Linked DNA regions of Homo sapiens: region 1 is linked to region 2. The links come from fine-mapping of genetic effects on gene expression. A gene starts in region 2. The other region holds a variant in brackets. All regions are shown on one strand. Distances are from middle to middle.

Region 1 (8,336 bases), 58 kb after region 2:
TGGCGTGTCTTCTATTTCAATTTTTTTATTAATTTTATGGAGAGGGAATTTACGTGTTCCTCTATACTCCACCACCTTTCCACACCTGTCTCCTCTCTCGGTCCCAGCTCCGAGTTCTTTTCACTGCATGTCTGACAGAGAAATGTCAGGTTACAGTAAAATTATAATTAGATCTATAGTCAGCTCTTATCAGATGGCATTAAACAGAGGAACCTGGAATAAAGTACAATGTTCTCTAAATGGAGAAATATTTTTACATGAATATTTTGGTATTTGTTAATGTACTGGAGTTAATAGAGAGGTGTAGGAGGTGCTGAATAGACATCCAATTTGTAGTGATGATTGCCAAATTAAGATTAGCACAGAAACCTGTCTGGAGTGGGAGGTAAAGTCTGCTGTTCCAAAGAAGAGGTTTTAAAGGTGTAGGTGGGAAGAGTGAGAAAAACGGAACATAAATGCTCTTGGGACAGGAATGAGAAAAGAACCTGCAGGTCCCCTGAGAGCCAGGAGTATTAATTTAGAAGTAGGTGTGACAGCCAGCCCAGAGATGACCAGCAATGGCCATTCCTTAATCCTGACCTTGTTGACATCCTTTAAAAGCATCGGATAACTTACAGCTTGCAAAGAAATTTCATATATTTAGCATTTTAAGTAAAATGGGTAAATGCATGTGATGGCCTAATAAAAGGATTTGTAATGGGATCCCTAAATAGACAAGGGCATAATTATGATTAGCCAAGGACAATCACTGGGAAGAGGGACTTAGCTGAAAGCTGCTAACATTCAACATTCCCTGTAGCCAGAAGACTTAAGTGCTTCAGTCTCAAAGGTGGAAGAAATCTGGGTGGCAAATGACAGCATCCACTACAGTCTACCCGTTGTGCCACTCAGATCCACTTGTTTTGTAAAAGTCTTGAGAGCAGCTCCTTCAGGATTCTGGTGGGCCTCTTTTCCTGGGGGAAAGGCACAAAAATAAAGTAATTGGCTGGACTGTAGCGTTGCCATTGCCACTGGCCTCAAGATCATGACATGACTGGTCCTTATTATCTTCTTTCTCTATTATGCATCTGAGAGTCCCCTTACTCTTGGTGAGCACTTCTGATCTAGGCATTTTGCCTTTTGTGGGTTACCTGTGGTCTAAACCCCAAGTCATTATGTCTTTCTCAAGCTGTGGCAGCAATACTTGACCATTTCCCATGAAGATTGGACAGGGGAGTACTGACAGAAGCCCCAGTGGATCACTTTGGTCTCAAACACATTTTTCTCTGCTCCCCTTTGGATGACAGCAGCCTTAGTTTTGCCTAATCGAAGTCAATTACCACAGCTAGAATGGTGACTCCTTTCTTTTTCTGTCAGCACAAATTGCCCACAGTGACCATGCAGCAGCCATAATATGAAATTTAATGGGACTTGTATAGCCGTTGATGGAATCATTTCCCCAACCTGAGGTCAAGACCTCCAGACTCACAGACTCCAAACTTGTGGGAACAGGATGCAGACATTCACTAACTGGGAGTAATGTAAGTAGGACCACTTCTCCCTCCACCTCTTAGTTCCCAGACCCACGTAACAAAGAACCACTGAAGTCCTCTGAGTAGAGAAATGGCGATTGCACTGCAGTAATGTTGAGGATAGGCCATAAGGAATGTATCTGAAGCAGGAAGACCAGTGAGGAAGCTGTTAGAATTGTCCAGGCAGGAAATTATGTGGGCCTAATAATGGAATATTATTAGAGCCTGACATTTTCTTCAGCAGGAAAGCAAGCTCTTGGCATCCAATTAGTGGTTCTGGGTACATCAGGAGGCATACTGTAGGTTAGGAAAGACATTTTTTAAGCTTTCCCTGCACTCATATAAGCAAAACTATTACAGGACCATTCCAAAAATAACTGAGCCAAACTGGTGAGCTGCAGCTTGGCTGTACGTCAGCTTGATCAGCAGAGACGCAGAAATACTGTCACTCCAAAAAAAAAAAAAAAAAAAAGATAGACAGGTAGACTCTCTGTATCAGCCCCACCCAGAGTGGGGCCAGGGATTCTGCCCCCAGCCCTTGCTCTCTGTTTATTCCTCTGTCCCAGAACGTTTATTACCATCCACCTGGAATTCAAGATATTTACCTGTGTAGTTATCACCTGCTCTAGACCCTGTGATCCCATAGAGCAAGAAGCTTGTCCTATACTATTCTCCACCCTGACCATGGCTATTACAGTCCCTGGCCCAGAGATCAAGTTCATTAACTGTTAAATGGAATTTTAAAATCTTGCAAGTGAGATCATGAAACTACTATCAGTAACCAGTAATAACAACAATAATCATCATAATAGGTAACATTTACTAGGCCCTTCCTATGGGCCAGGCACACTGCTAAGGGATTTTGATGGATTCTCTTAGTTAGTTCTTCCAAAAACGCTATGAAGTAGGTGTTATGACCATCTCCATTTTACACAGAAAGAAACTTTAGCAAAGCCACCCTGCTACTAAGTGGTCGTCCCATTTGTCAAAAAAAAAAAGACTTAGGAGGGTGCTACCACTATGGCCCTGCAAATGTGATACCCATTTCAGCAAGATTCCAGACCTATCTGTGAGATTAATAGCTACTAGGCACTTTTGGTGATTACTAGGAACCAGTGCATGTTCGTCAGGAACAAGCCATGCTAGCTTAACCTCGTTTCTCTTCCCGTTATTCATTCCACCCCAGCATCCCTGAAAACACCCTTCATCAATGGCCATGTATTCCAAATCCTGCCCCACGCCCCCAACCCTGCTGCACAACCTCCAGCCATATGCTCCTTTGAGAGTTTCACACATGCCTTTTACGTAGGCATTTATTTTCAAGGAATCAAAGGTGTCATTGCAGTTTCTCTGTCATTCCTCCTCCACAGCTGCTGCCCTGTCCCTGCACAGCTTCCAATAGTTCAGCCTTGGGTAGACTGCACTTGGAAAGAGGAAACCCAGCTGTCTGGGATCACGTGCACAGCAATATCGACTGGAGCCCTAGGACCAGAACAGCCTCACCCCACCCTCCTCACCCTGTGCCCAGCCTCTAGGTTTCTCGGCTTGCCCATTAGAAGGACAAGTTTGCTCACAATGGCCTGGGCTTTAATAAGAAGGAGGTGGAACTCCACCCCTACTGCTGGCCATGCGATTTGGCCATCACCTCAATCTCTCACTTCCCTCAGGAGTGAAAAGGTTGCTTCAGGGAGGTAGCAGTAAAGTACAAACATGGATATAAGGAACTCCTACAGCTCAACAGCCAAAAACCAAATAACCTGATTTAAAAAATGGGCAGAGGACTTGAATAGACATTTCTCCAAAGAAGACATACAAATGACCAACAGGTATATGAACTCACCTAATTATCACTAAGCATCAGGAAAATGCAAATCAACACCACAGTAAGACATCATCTCACACCCATTAGGACAGTCATTATCAAATAATTAGTGATCAAATAATGAATAATTAGAAAATAATGAGTGTTGTTGAGAATGTAGAGAAATTTGAGTCCCTGTGCACTGTTGGTGGGAATGTAAATTGGTACAGCCGTGGTGGTAAACAGTATGGAGGTCCCTCAAAGAGTTGAAAATAGAACTACCATATGATCCAGCAATACTACTTCCGAGTATTTATTTAAAGAATTGAAAACAGGATCTTGAAAGAGCTATTTGCACTCCCATGTTCACTGCAGCATTATTCACTATAACCAAGAGGTGGAAACTACCTAAATGTTCATCAAGGGATAAATAGATAAACAAAATGTGGTATATACATACAATGGAATGTTATTCAGTCTTAAAAGAAGGAAATCCTGCCACATGCGACAACATGGATGAACCTGGAGGAATTATGCTAAATGAATCAAGTCAGTTACAGAAAGATAATACTGGAGGATTCCACTTACATGAGGTCTCTAAAGTAGGCAAACACATAGAAGCAGAAAGTAGAGTCGTGACTGCCAAAGGGGAAGCAGAATGGGAGTTGTTGCTCAGTGAGTGCAGAGTTTAGTTATGCAAGAAAAAAAAGTTCTAGAGGCCAGGCATGGTGGCTCATGCCTGTAATCCCAACACTTTGGGAGTCTGAGGCGGGAGGATTGCTTGAGCCCAGGAGTTTGAGACCAGCCTGGGCAATATAGTGAGAGCTTGTCTCTAAAAAACAAAACAGGCCAGACATGATGGTTCATGCCTGTAATCCCAGCACTTTGGGAGGCTGAGGTGGGTGGATCATTTGAGGTCAGGAGGTCGAGACCAGCCTGGCCAACATGGTGAAACCCCGCCTCTACTAAAAATACAAAAATTAGCTGGGCGTGGTGGCGCATGCCTGTAATCACAGCTACTTGAGAAGCTGAGGCACGAGAATCACTTGAACCCGGGAGGTGGAGTTTGCAGTGAGCCGAGATTGGGCCATTGCACTCCAGCCTGGGCGACAGAGCAAGACTCTGTCTCAAAAAAAATAACAATTATTTTAAAAAAGACAAAGTTCTAGAGATCTGCTATATAACATTGGGCTTATAGTTAACTACACTGTACACTTAAAAATCTGAGGGTAGATTTCATGTTATGTCTTTACCACATTTTTTACAGGAAAAAATGTGAAACGAATCCAGAATAAGCATCGTCTGTTCCTAACCACA[T/C]CATTTTTAGACTTAATTGAAAGGCAGGGGGAAGGACAGCATATAATCTAGAGCCATTTCACTCTGTCCCTCAAAATTTATCTTGACCTGGGCGGCAGCTATATGGGCACGTGTGTGTGTAAGAATTGGGGTTTATACAAAGAACAAATTCATAAGCTGTGTACAGCTTATAACATTTATATATTAGTGCAATTTCTGTGTAATGGTATACTAAAATAAAAATGGAAACTAAAGGGTAAAAAAACAACTCAGTGCTTGAAGAAACTTGATTGACAAGATGAGGAGTTTAGACTGTCTCATGATCAGTGAACGTCATGGAATATTCTAAGCAGGGGAGGGTCCCACTAGGAGCTATGCTTTTTCTGGAAGCTTCTTGAAGTTTTTGGCCTTCTGTGCAGGCCATGGAGTCATGCCCTCACTCTCCCACTGCCCTAAGCCCCTTGAGGGCGGGATTCCTGCCTGCTTTATTGCAGCCCCGCTTCAGTGCCTGGTGTAGTCACTGGCATCTAGCTGGCTGACTAATTAAGGGTGGGGACGCCCTAATCGCTTCTGGGAAATCAATGGAGAAGGCGGGCTAGTGCTCAAGGCCAGCCCACTCAAGTCAACCAGCATCAATAGGGCACCTGCTGTATGCAGAGTCATGAAATGTTGCCTAGAGAAGCTGCTTCGACAACAGAAATGTTCCCAAATTTCCCTCCCCCAAAATAAGGGCCCTCTGTCTAGGTGGATTTTCTTAGAAGCTCTGGCTGACGGTTTTCAATTTTGAGTCCCACCCAAAGAGACTCTTTGATGTTATAGGACTTGCCTAAAGATGCAGCTTGCAGACTCCAGCTCAAGCAGTTTCCAAATGAAGCTTAATGAAGACAATTTTGGGGTTAAAACAATCTCTTGTTGCCATGGCAACACTGCAGGTCATTAAAGAGAAGGCATTTAGGGCTGGCTGGGCTCCTGCAGGTCCTAGGGCTGGTGGGAATCACAGTCCGTGGGGCAGGGGGAAGGGGGACCAGAGAGAAGACTAGTCAGAGAGGCAGAGGTTGCCAAAGTGCCCCATCCTCCTGCTAGGATGCAGAATGGAAAGGACTAAATATACGTGGCACACTCACACAGAATAATCCACCTCTCAGGACTGGTGATGTTTGCAGAGGGGTTGAGAAAAACACTCCTTACTCAGGGCTGATTCGGGAGGCTCCCTTAGCAGGCTCCCCGCATCTGGACGCTGCGGGATATCTGAAACTGCAACCAAAGAACAGGGAATGGGAAGCTGGAATATACACTCTCCTGGGTAGGTACCCCATCCTAGAGAGAGCTGAGGAAAGAGGGGAAAAAAGTGATAGAAAGAGGAAAGGATGATGGGAGGTCTTAAGACAATGAACACAGCCCTCTCTGCCTGGAGCCCCCAGGTAAATGCAGGAGAATCACAGGCCAGTGTGGCTCCGTAAGACTTTGTTGACCTCAAAACGGTCGCCAGCATTATGAGCAGAGTCAAAGAGAAATTTTGAACCCAGCTCAGAGGCAAAAGCTTTCCCAAGACATTTCAGCATCCATTCATCACCCCTGCCCAATTCAGGGCCTTTCCTGTCACCCTAACAACCTACATCTCAATAATCAGCAGGACTCTTTATCAGGAGGGATGAACAAAGTCAGCCTGCAAAGGTAATTTACCCCCAGTTCAGAAGGATTTGTCGTCTGGGTTCTTCTAGAAAATCAGACATGCTGCTGAGAGTCCCAGCTCCAGGCAATCAGAACCAAAGGCTCCCGAACTTGGTACAAGGGACTCTGCTAGAGGGCAGGTGCCCATTGAGCAGGCACATCAATAGATAAGGAAAACTCCAATGCTCTATAGCCCTTAATAACACAAATGAGGAGGCTGAAGAATTTCAGCTCTAACTGCAGTTAATCACAAAGGGAACTACAGGATATTCTGCAATGAGAGGTTCTACAGGATGTCATCAAGAATGTGAGCTATCACAGAATGGTAAATGTACAATCCCAAGACACAGAAGGGCACGGGAATGCAGGCCAAGCTGCTGGACCGGTTTGAAAGAGCCACTGCATGTGTTAGCCTCAAGCTGAGCACCCAATACAGCTCCCTGCAATGCTGTGAGTGGCCCTGCCCCATCATGGGCTTCTGCAGGAAAATAGACCTGCTTCAGGGCTAGAGGTTAGGGCCACAGATAGTGGCCTGGAGGTTGGATGGCCACAAAACTCCAGAGGTCACCAGCTAAAGGTGTCCCAGAGTCAGGCTTGGACATGGAGCACATGAAGAGGAAGAAGGGGCTGATCTGCTAAGCCTGGTCTTAGAGGGCATCTAAGTAACTCTAGGCAGAATGTCTGGGGGGTGAGGGTACCACAGACAGGGGGGACACCAGGCCACAGGTGCACTCAATGCAGCTGGTTCTGGAGGTAAATGGGGGCCGAAGCAGCCCCCAGGGGAGAGAGGACCGAGGTCTGGGGCAGGGTCCGGGGCCCAGACGTGGAGGCTGTAGTTAAGGGCAGGGAAACCAAGAGAGAGGCCCAGAGTTTGAGGGCCTCAGGGCTTTGGCTGTAAGTTTTCAGGAATCACCCAGCTGTTTTTTAGATGGGGAAGCAGAGACCCTGAGATCACACAAAGAGCCCCTTCTAGCCCCAGATCAAGTCCAAAGTCCAAGGTTCCAATGGACAGGAGCCTTCAGAACGTCCAAGAGGCCCCTGCAAAGTGTGGGGCTGGGGTGCCTTGCCATCTTGTAATAAACAGCAGAACTCAAGCATACCCCACTTTTACCCCAGGCTGTCAGGAACCTGGGAGTGTTCCAACAGCAGGAGATTGCCCTCCAAGGACAAGGTGCATTTTGCTAGTGAGGCTTATGCAGATTTAAAGCATGAAATACAAGAGAGATGAGGCTGTGCCACAGACCATCCTTCTTCTCTGCCCTTCCTTGTCAAAACACAGCCTCTCCTCTAAGTAACTTTGAGAAAAGTAGCGAAGACTAGTGTTTTAAAGGGGCCCAAATTGTTAGCATAATGGTAATGACCACATGCCCAGTCCAGCCCTGCTCACACACCTTGTTCCTGCAGCACCACAGTGGTTGAGTTACAAACATCCCAGAGAGATGGTTGGCGTGGAGCAAGAGCACCGTGCCTTGACTCGGGAGGCCTGGGATGATGTCCTGGCTTCTTCATAAATGGCCCCTGAGGACCCCTTTACAAAAGGATGTTCCAGTGTAATAGGGTGCCTGGTTGGAGTTTTCTTGTCGCTCTGAAATGTCAACTAAAAGAGACATTTGGGAACAAATGGTGGCACCTACCCCACTTTGGAAGTCCAGAGCACCACCAGCAATGGGGTCAGCCACTGGGTAAGAGGGTCAATTTAGAGATGCCATTTTGGAGACTAAGCCCTATAATTCCCCCTACCTTGCCCCCTGGACAGAGAGGAGGACAGGACATGGGGACAGGCACTATTCAGGAAACACTATATTTGTGAGAAGAGAGACTTTCATCCTCCTCTTCCCTGTGGGGGTGGGAAACAGGGTGTCTCTCCCAAGAAAACATTTAAATCTGGGGGAGTGCTTTCAAAATGCAAAGATTAGATTTGGTTCCCTGGTTAGGTATCTGCTTGGTCTCCAGACTTTCATCTACCCCTGTATGACCAGAGCTGGGAGGAACTCTCTGGAAAAAGGGATGCCATGGGGACTACAGCCAGGAAGACAGAAGGTCAAGGTCACCACCTC
Region 2 (8,336 bases):
GTGGACATAGGGAACCAGTAAAGAATTTTAAGGAAGAGAGTGACATGATCATTGGCCACAGTGTGGGAGATGGATTGGGAGGCTTGGGGGTCATCTCGGAGCCCCTGAGAGATGAAGAGGATCAGAAACAGCACAGCAGGGAGATAGAGAAAGACTCAAGCTGGAGAGATGTTTGAAAGTTAGAACTGAATAGTGGTCCATTTGATGAAAGTGTCAACCAAAATCTAATTTACCTTCATTTGAAAATTTATCTCCTATTGTGCATCACAGTGAATAAATATTAAGAACACCTAATACTGGAAATATTAAATGATTTACAAGATCTCTAAGCTCGTTGGAGAGAAAAGAAACAATCTGGATTGAAAAAAGCTGAAGCATTCCTAGAATGTTGAGATCCCATCCACTTTGGCTGCTCTGGCCAGAATATTTTTGTCTTTAAAAATTAGCAACCATAAAGTGGGTTTTTTTCATGTGTTTCATAAGAAGAGTAAACTGAGAAGAGAGCAAAGTTTGCCTGGTTCCTCCCTTGCTGTACTCCCTGTCTCTACCCGCCAACCCCCCACCCCCACTCCACCCCCACCATCACTTTCACCTCTCTGGTCTGTTTTCTGTTGGACTCATTTCCACTATAATGGTGGCCACTATATCTTCCAATGGCACAGGGGCTGGAGAGGAAATACTGAAGATTAAAATATCACCAGTGTCAGAAAATTAAAATGATGCCTTCTTTCATGGAGGCAATAAGTAGATGCAAGTGTTTGCTATTATTGTCCTGATGTCCTTTGATTATTTTATTGTCCCCAAAAGTAAAGATGTCTTATATTTTTTAAGCTGAGAGGAGCCATCTTGTTCAATCTTCCATGTTTAGAAACAGGAAACTTAAATACAGGAATTGAAACTTTTCTCTCTCTGAATCCAGGGTCTTTCACTCCCATGCCTTCTCAGATCCTTGGCCTGAGTAGTTTAGACCAAGATTACATATTAAAGGTCTGACAGCCGATGTAGCCCACAGTCATGTCTTGCTTGGCTGGCACTGTGCTTTAAATTTTCTTTGAATGTTTTAAGATGGATTATTCACTCTTCAGTTTGAAAAGGCCCTGTCATTCTCCGTAGTCTTACAATTGGCCCGATTCACACATTCAGGTTACTTAACTGGCCTGTATAGGGATGCGGGTTTGTGTATGAAAGTAAAATACATAATATATAAAATCGCGATGCTAGGATTTTGTCCTTCCTGTCATTTTGTAGCTGCTTATCTCTTCAGAGTTGTTAGAAGGCCTAAATAAGCTAACGGATGTAAACCTTTATATAAACTTTAAAGTATGGTTTGCTCATGTGAACCATTATAAATTATGTAACTAACACTTAATTACCTGAGTGCAGATACAATGTCATACACTTTATTTCCCCTTCTTCAAGTCACACTGACATTGGATTTCCAGTTAAACATCCCTTGTTTGGCACAGTGAAGATCTCACAGAGGGCAAGGGATGGAATTATACAAAAGAGAAGAGTCTACGGACTTTTGCAAACATTTTCAAAGTTCCTAGACCTCCAAGAAAGTGCTTGGTTATACACTTTCTAGTACTTAGAGACCAGAGCAAGTTTCTAGGACTTTATAATATACATACTTTGTATTCATTTTATCTGTGGCTATAGCCTTAATCTTGTTTCACCTCTGTTTTCTCGACTACTTCGAATACGTGCAAACCTGACATCTTGTGGAGCCTTCTAAATTGCTTTAAATTCTTTGTGGAACAAAATAGAATATAATCAATAAACATTTATGAGATTAATCCATATGAAACTGCTGTTTCAAAATGGTTTTAAAAACCATTAATGTCACATATTTATAGTACTTGTCTAAATACACTTTAGTGCTTAACTGCCCCATAATTCAAGCTCCTGAGGATGTGCCAGTCCATGTGGAAGGATTATAAGCTAGAGAGGCGGGAGATCTGGATTCTAATCCCAGCTCTGCTACTAAGTACCTGAGTAATTTTGGGCAAGCATCATTTTGCCAAACAAGTAGAATAACCCCAGTCCTGCCTACTTAACAACATTGTTATAAGGATCAAATGGTAGGCAATATGTCCACACTCTCTATAAAGTCCTGTTAAAAAATCTAAGAGGCTATTACACACTGAACTAAGCTCATCCAGAATTCCTCCCACTGAGCCCCGCTCTGTGCCCAGTCCCTTTGGAGTGTGCTGAGGGAAGTGTTCACCACCAATTCTCCTTCTCTTCTAATTACCTGCTCCTTCCTTTCAGCCCCTAACACCCAACCACAATTCCCAGTTTGCCAGTCTTTCCACACATATGATCTCCTTGGCCACCCTCCCCTGACACTTTTGCAAGGAAAGCATTATCAAGTATTTACAGATAGTTAAAATCTGAAGTTCAGACACATTTAGTAATTTTGTCTAAGGGCACACGTTTTTAAGTGCTACAGCTTTGATTTAAACTCTGTTCCTCTGATCCCAAGTTCAGAGCTATTTCACGCAGGGAATTCCACTCAAGCACATCCTCCCACCACTGCAATCTGGCAGCGTTTAAGAGCGCAGCCATACCATTTGCTAGTTCCATAAACCTGGACAAGTTACTCGGCCTCTCTTGCTTCAGTTTTCTCATCTGTAAAATGGGGATACTCATAGGACACAAATTTGTGGTGCACTGGCTTAGCACGGGGCCTTGGCACATGGTAAGCGCTTAATAAATGCTAGATTTTTAAAGAAGTTTGGGTACACCTTCCGAAATCCGGGGAGGCCACACAGTTTGCCTGTAGTTTTCGCGGAAGCTTGGGAGATATCTTTACACTCCGCCTCTTCCTTCTGCAGTCACGGGAAGCAGTTAGAAGCAGATCAGAAATCGAACACGTTTGCTTTTGCGATTCGAGAGCCCTTTCTGGCGCGGAGCTAGGGGCGGTGTTACGTAGCTGCCCTGAACTGAGAGCAGCGTTGGCCGGGGGCTAGGGAGCCGGGCTGTTCCACGCTCACTGTGCGCCTCGGGCGGCGGGGCTCGGGCTCTGTCCGAGGTGCTGAACTCCGGGGCTCCGGCCGCGCCGGCAGAGTGTGCCAGCGTCCATTATTGCCAGTGTCTGTGGGCATCTTCCAGAAGGCCGAGCATGGGGGTCAGGTGAAACCAGGGCGGTAAGTGCTTCTCCCATCATTTCTCAGAAATGCTTAGGTGCCTACTTTTTACAATTTCGTGCACATTTTCAGGATCATAACCTCTCACCGCCAGTTCCTCACAGGTTTCTGCAAAAACTGACGACCTTTCTTCCCCTTCAGTCCCTGCAAAAATCCAGACACCTATCACCCAGCCCCGCTCCGCAACCATTTCCTACAAGAATCCAGGCCCCTACGCATCTCATCCCCACGCGTCAATGCAAAAATAAAAAATGTTAAATCCGCCTTCCATTCCCGTCTCCCACAATTTCCTGTGATAAAAGCAAGCTGTCTCCTACCAGTTCCCCACTCCTGCCTGTGGCTAAACAGCATGGACCGACTTCTCGGGAGCTCGAGGTCCCCACCCGGGTGACCAATGCAGACCCCTGGGGGTGCGCTTACCTGGTGGGGACAATCGCCGAGCGAGGCCACCTGGGTCCAGGCTATAGGTAGTGTCATTATTATTCCCAAAACAAAATCAGGGGGCGTCCAGCACCCCTACCTGCAGCTGCGGGTTGGCTGCCAGAGGGCACTGCCAGACTGAACCAGCGCCGGGAGCTGGGGCTACCCCGGGCCCCGCGGGTCCTGTTGAGTCACTTGCCCAGAACTTCTTCAAGGTTCGTGAATAAAACCTCTGCGTCAGTTCCTTCAAATCGGTCCACCGCTCCTCCAAGTTGCGGTGGGAGCAGGGGAGTTTTGGGTTTGGTTTGGTTTGGTTTGGTTTTAAGAAAAAGAAAGAAGCATGAAAGAAAGATAGGAATCGCCCCCGGTTCCGCGCTGCGGGTGTGCAGGTCTCTGCGCAGCCCCAGACCTCCGGCTTGGTCTTCGGCCGGCTGTGCTGGCTGACGACGCGCTGCTGCCCGCTGGCGCCGAGAGCAGCTCTCCAGCCGCGACGGGCGAGGGTTGTGTGGGTGTGCGAGCTGCGAGGAAGGAGGAAGGAGGGGGCCGCGGGGGTGGGGAAGTGCCTACCTGCAGCCTCGGCAGAGGCGCCTGCTGCCCCACCCCCTCGACCCTAGCTCTTGGGGCTCCGACTCGCTCAGCAACTTAGCAGGGGGCTCCTAGACTCCCCGAGGGTGAGCGCGGAGCAGGCGCGGCCACTCCTGGGGTCCGGAGAAGTGAGGGGACGCTCCCAAAGTCTGACGTTGCAGGTCTCAGACCCTGGCAGGAATTTGAACTCGTGTCCCCTTTGTTCTCTCTGCGGCCCTGCCCTCCTCGGCTTTCCTTCACACACGCCCTGGAATCTCAGGCTGTCTGTCCAAGGTGTAGGAAAGAGAGGGAGAGAGGAGGGTGCAGTGCGATCCTCAAAACTGGGAATAATTTGATGATCAGGGCTGGTTCCACGGCCGTTGGATTTCATTCCAAATCAATGTTTTAGCCCACCCGCTACCTATTCCCAGGGCCTCCTGTGGAGTCGTTCGCGGACAATCTTCGTTTCCTTTTTACAAAGTAGTTAATAGTTGCTGCATATGATTGAAAGCATAAGGCATTGTATTTAGGAAGTAAGTGGCTCATGCTTGTAATCCTAGCGCTTTGGGAGGCCAAGGTAGGAGGACCGCTTGAGGCCAGGAGTTCAAAACCAGCCTAGGCAACATAGTGAGACTTACCAAAAAAAAAAAAAAAAAAAAAAAAAAAAAAAAGTCTCTACAAAAAAAAAAAAAACTAAAATGCTTTCCAAAAAAAATAGAAAGTGAGTGCCCCCTCCTCCCCTACCCTGCAGTGTCCTTCCCCCACTAATCAGTTCCCCAGAGGTAACCAGCATTTTCGTCTAGATACATGTATATGCACACAGGGGTTCTATTTGCCCTATGTTTTTTAAATCCCTACTTCTTCAGTCATTTTTAGTAATTTATATTTTCCTAGGATATTGTCCATCTCATTTACATTTTCAAATTTTCTGGCACAAAGTTACAAATAGTGTCACCTTATATTTATTTTCATCTCTAAAACTGTTCTGGGCCTCCTTATTGCTGATATTATTTATTTGTGTTTTCTACTGCTCCATTCCCAATTTTTTAAATCAAGCTTGCTGGAGGATTATCAATTTTATCTTTTAAGGGCAAAAATATTATTCCATAAGTTGCCTTTATCACTTAGTGTGTCTATAGTATCACTTAGAGAAATGTACCCTCCTAGTACCCAATATTTATAATGACTGCCTACTGTTTGTGGAGTTTTTCTCTCTAAAGCAGTTTCAAGGTTTATGTAGTCAAACACATGTCTTATCTTGCATGGTTTCTAGATTTCCCATCTTGCCTAGGGAGGCTTCGTACCCCAGAATCACCATACAGTTCCCTAAATGTTCTAGTAATGTATAGCTCTGTTGTTTAGATTACCATTTCATCTGGAAACTGTATTTGTGCACAGGGTAAGGTAAGGAACTGACAAAGATGAGAACCCAATTGTCCCAACACCAATTCAAAAAGTCCATTCTTCGCTCACTGATGTGAATGCCACCTTTATAACACTTTATATTTCTCAAAACAAACTCTACTTGGTTAATGTATGTTATTTTATACAAATACACTGCTAGATTGCAATAATTTACTTATGTTAATATAAGGTTTATTCCGTCTATATTAATAAGTAAAAATTGTGTTCTTTTTCCTTTTTAGGGGATGAGGGTTCTCATTCAACTTTGGTGCAAGGTTATGGTAACCTTATAGAATGATTTTGGACGCATTCTGTTTTTTCCTACACTCTGGAATATTTAAATTATCAAGTTAACTATCAGTTCATTGAGGGTTTAATAGAACATACCCATGAAACTGTCTGGACTTGATGGATTTTAGAAGGATAGATCTTTGATTATCTTTTCAAATTCATTGATGCTTGTTGGCATATTCATCATCTGACCCATCTTGAGTCAATTTTGGGTAATTTATATTTACCTGGAAAAAAGTTCATTTCATCTACCTTTTTTAATGTATTGGCATAATGTTACATATTATGCTCCTTTATAATTTTTCATCTCCTTTAAATCTATTCCTATATCCCCTTTTTATTCCTGATGTTGTGTTCTCCCCCACTATTTTTCATTAATATTATTTTGCTGTAGTTGAATTATATGATTTACATCATTTCCGTGTTGTGGTCTATTTATATGACAAATAAAAAATACTCCACAAGCATTTTCCCTCACACTTAATGTAGAAAAAAAATGTACATTCTGTGTTTTGGGGCACAAACAATACAAGTACACCTGTAAAGTTAATTGTACATTAGTACCTGTATTAGTCCTCTCTCACACTGCTAATAAAGACATACGTGAGACTGGGTAATTCATAGAGGAAAGAAGTTTAATGGATTCACAGTTCCACATGGCTGGGGAGGCCTCACAATAATGATGGAAGTCAAAGGAGAAGGAAAGTCACATCTTACATGGTGGCAGGCAAGAGAGCTTGTGCAGGGGAACTCCCGTTTACAAAACTGTCAGATCTCATGAGACTTATTCACTACCATGAGAACAGTATGGGGGAAACCGCCTTTGTGATTCAATTATCTCCACCTGGCTCTGCCCTTGACATGTGGGGGTTATGGGAGCTACAATTCATGAGATTTGGGTGGGACCACAGCTAAACCATATCAGCAACCTTTACATCTTTACTTTGGACTACAGGCAGTATAGTGTATTGATTAAGAGCACAGACTCAGGGGTCAGACTGCCTGTATTTAAATCCCAATTCCAGCACTCACCAGCTGCATAGTCTCTGATGAGACACCAAATGCCTTTGTGTCTCCGATGAGACACCAAATGCCTTTGTGTCCATAAAATTGGGTTAATATTAGTATCTACTTTCTACAACTGGGATGAGAGGCAGCTAAGGTAAAATATGTAAAATGTTTAGCACAGTGTCTGATAGGGAGTAAGCACCCTGTATGTGTTAACTACGCTTATCTGCCTGATCTATCAGTATTTAAATTAAACTGTTAAGGTCTCCTAGGAGGCTTGAATTCATTTTGGTTTTCAGCCAAAATCTACTATTGAGTCTGTGCTATGTGACCTGATCTGCCTTCTTTTGGAGTGCTGTAGATTTAGAATAAGACAGGCACGTTCTCTGCCTTTGCAAAGGAGCATTCTAAAGACTTGTCAGCATCTCTTTGGAGATGTGTGTGTATGTATGTGTGTAAGTGAATCAACTCACACTGTTCCATGAAGCAAAAGGACTTTTGCAACCTATTCCAAGTCTGCTTTCTTATGGATATCTCAGCTACTTCCTCAGAGATGCACCTTACATGCTAGGCCTACTTGATTAAAAACAACAACAGCAATAGTACTTTTTTTTTAAAAAAATTGCTAATAATAGTAATAAAAGCTTTGAATATCTACTACTATCAATGCCCTCCAGCTTAAGACCACCAGGGACTCAAGTATAGTTGAACAAATTGGCTGTATCACTTGTTGCAGTGAGGGAGGACACATACCATGGGTAATCGTGGGGTGTCTCACTTAAGAGGGTGCTAGAAAGAATGTGTGATGGAATTTGGGCTGTGGTTGAGAGATTTGGGGGAGGGTTGACCCACTCTTACACAGGCAGTTGGATCAGAAGAGAATCACATCAAATGTTATTTTACCACCTACAAGAAAATGATGATGTGATCCCAGGTGCCATGGTTCCCTGTGCACTCTGTTTTAAGTCAGTGAAAGTAAAGTCTTTATTGACCTCTTGAGCAGTTTCCCTCTCCAGAGTATATTACCAGTCAGTCATTATCCATAGGGAAGAGAAAGTCAGATTCAGAGGTGAGCACTGAGCTCCTTAGAGCTGTCAGCAAGAGTCATCTGATTCACTGAATTCACAGAGATTGGGAGGTTAAGTTCCAGGAGGAGGAGGTGTGTCCCTAGAATCACATGGCAAATTCAATACAAGGCCTGCCTGGTCTCTTGAGACCAGCATTGTGTGATTAGATGTGTGCCAGAATATTGTAAATTTTAACATAACTTTTACTAGATTTTTATCACAATGTATTACAGGTATGTTCTAGAAAACACACATAAAATATGGACTTCTTTTTACCATCCTTCTATTCCACTTTTTAATTTTAAAAATTAGTTCCAAATATTTGTATTGCACATTTAAACTGGCTCACAATTGATGCAAATAACATAAAGCCACATCTTAAACAAAGAGGTGTTTCTTTTCTTTTCTTTTTTTAATTGTAGTAAAAACACTG

Alleles and levels. Positions count from the first base shown, and alleles are read on the strand shown. Sizes are in standard deviations (SD) of each study's normalised expression.
With allele C in place of T in region 1, the expression in tibial artery of the gene that starts at base 4,076 in region 2 is higher (large effect, 0.78 SD a copy in GTEx).

What was found. PIP is the estimated chance that this variant, and not a neighbour inherited with it, causes the effect.
Region 1: its variant is fine-mapped to the expression of ANKRD34C in tibial artery (GTEx, PIP 0.97).

Annotation. Positions count from the first base shown.
Region 1 is chr15:79,220,191-79,228,526 of GRCh38, reverse strand. All of the region lies in intron 1 of ANKRD34C-AS1 (ANKRD34C antisense RNA 1), which reads left to right. Among named protein-coding and RNA genes, the nearest start is that of MIR184, 15 kb to the right of the region's middle. The variant T/C (reference allele first, on the strand shown) is at 4,630.
Region 2 is chr15:79,278,462-79,286,797 of GRCh38, reverse strand. ANKRD34C (ankyrin repeat domain 34C) reads right to left here and starts at 4,076. Exons shown (of 2, transcript NM_001146341.2): 1 at 3,570-4,076. It overlaps ANKRD34C-AS1 (ANKRD34C antisense RNA 1), which reads left to right and starts at 2,853. Exons shown (of 2, transcript NR_038997.1): 1 at 2,853-3,149. RefSeq lists a silencer at 3,752-3,950 and an enhancer at 3,602-4,141.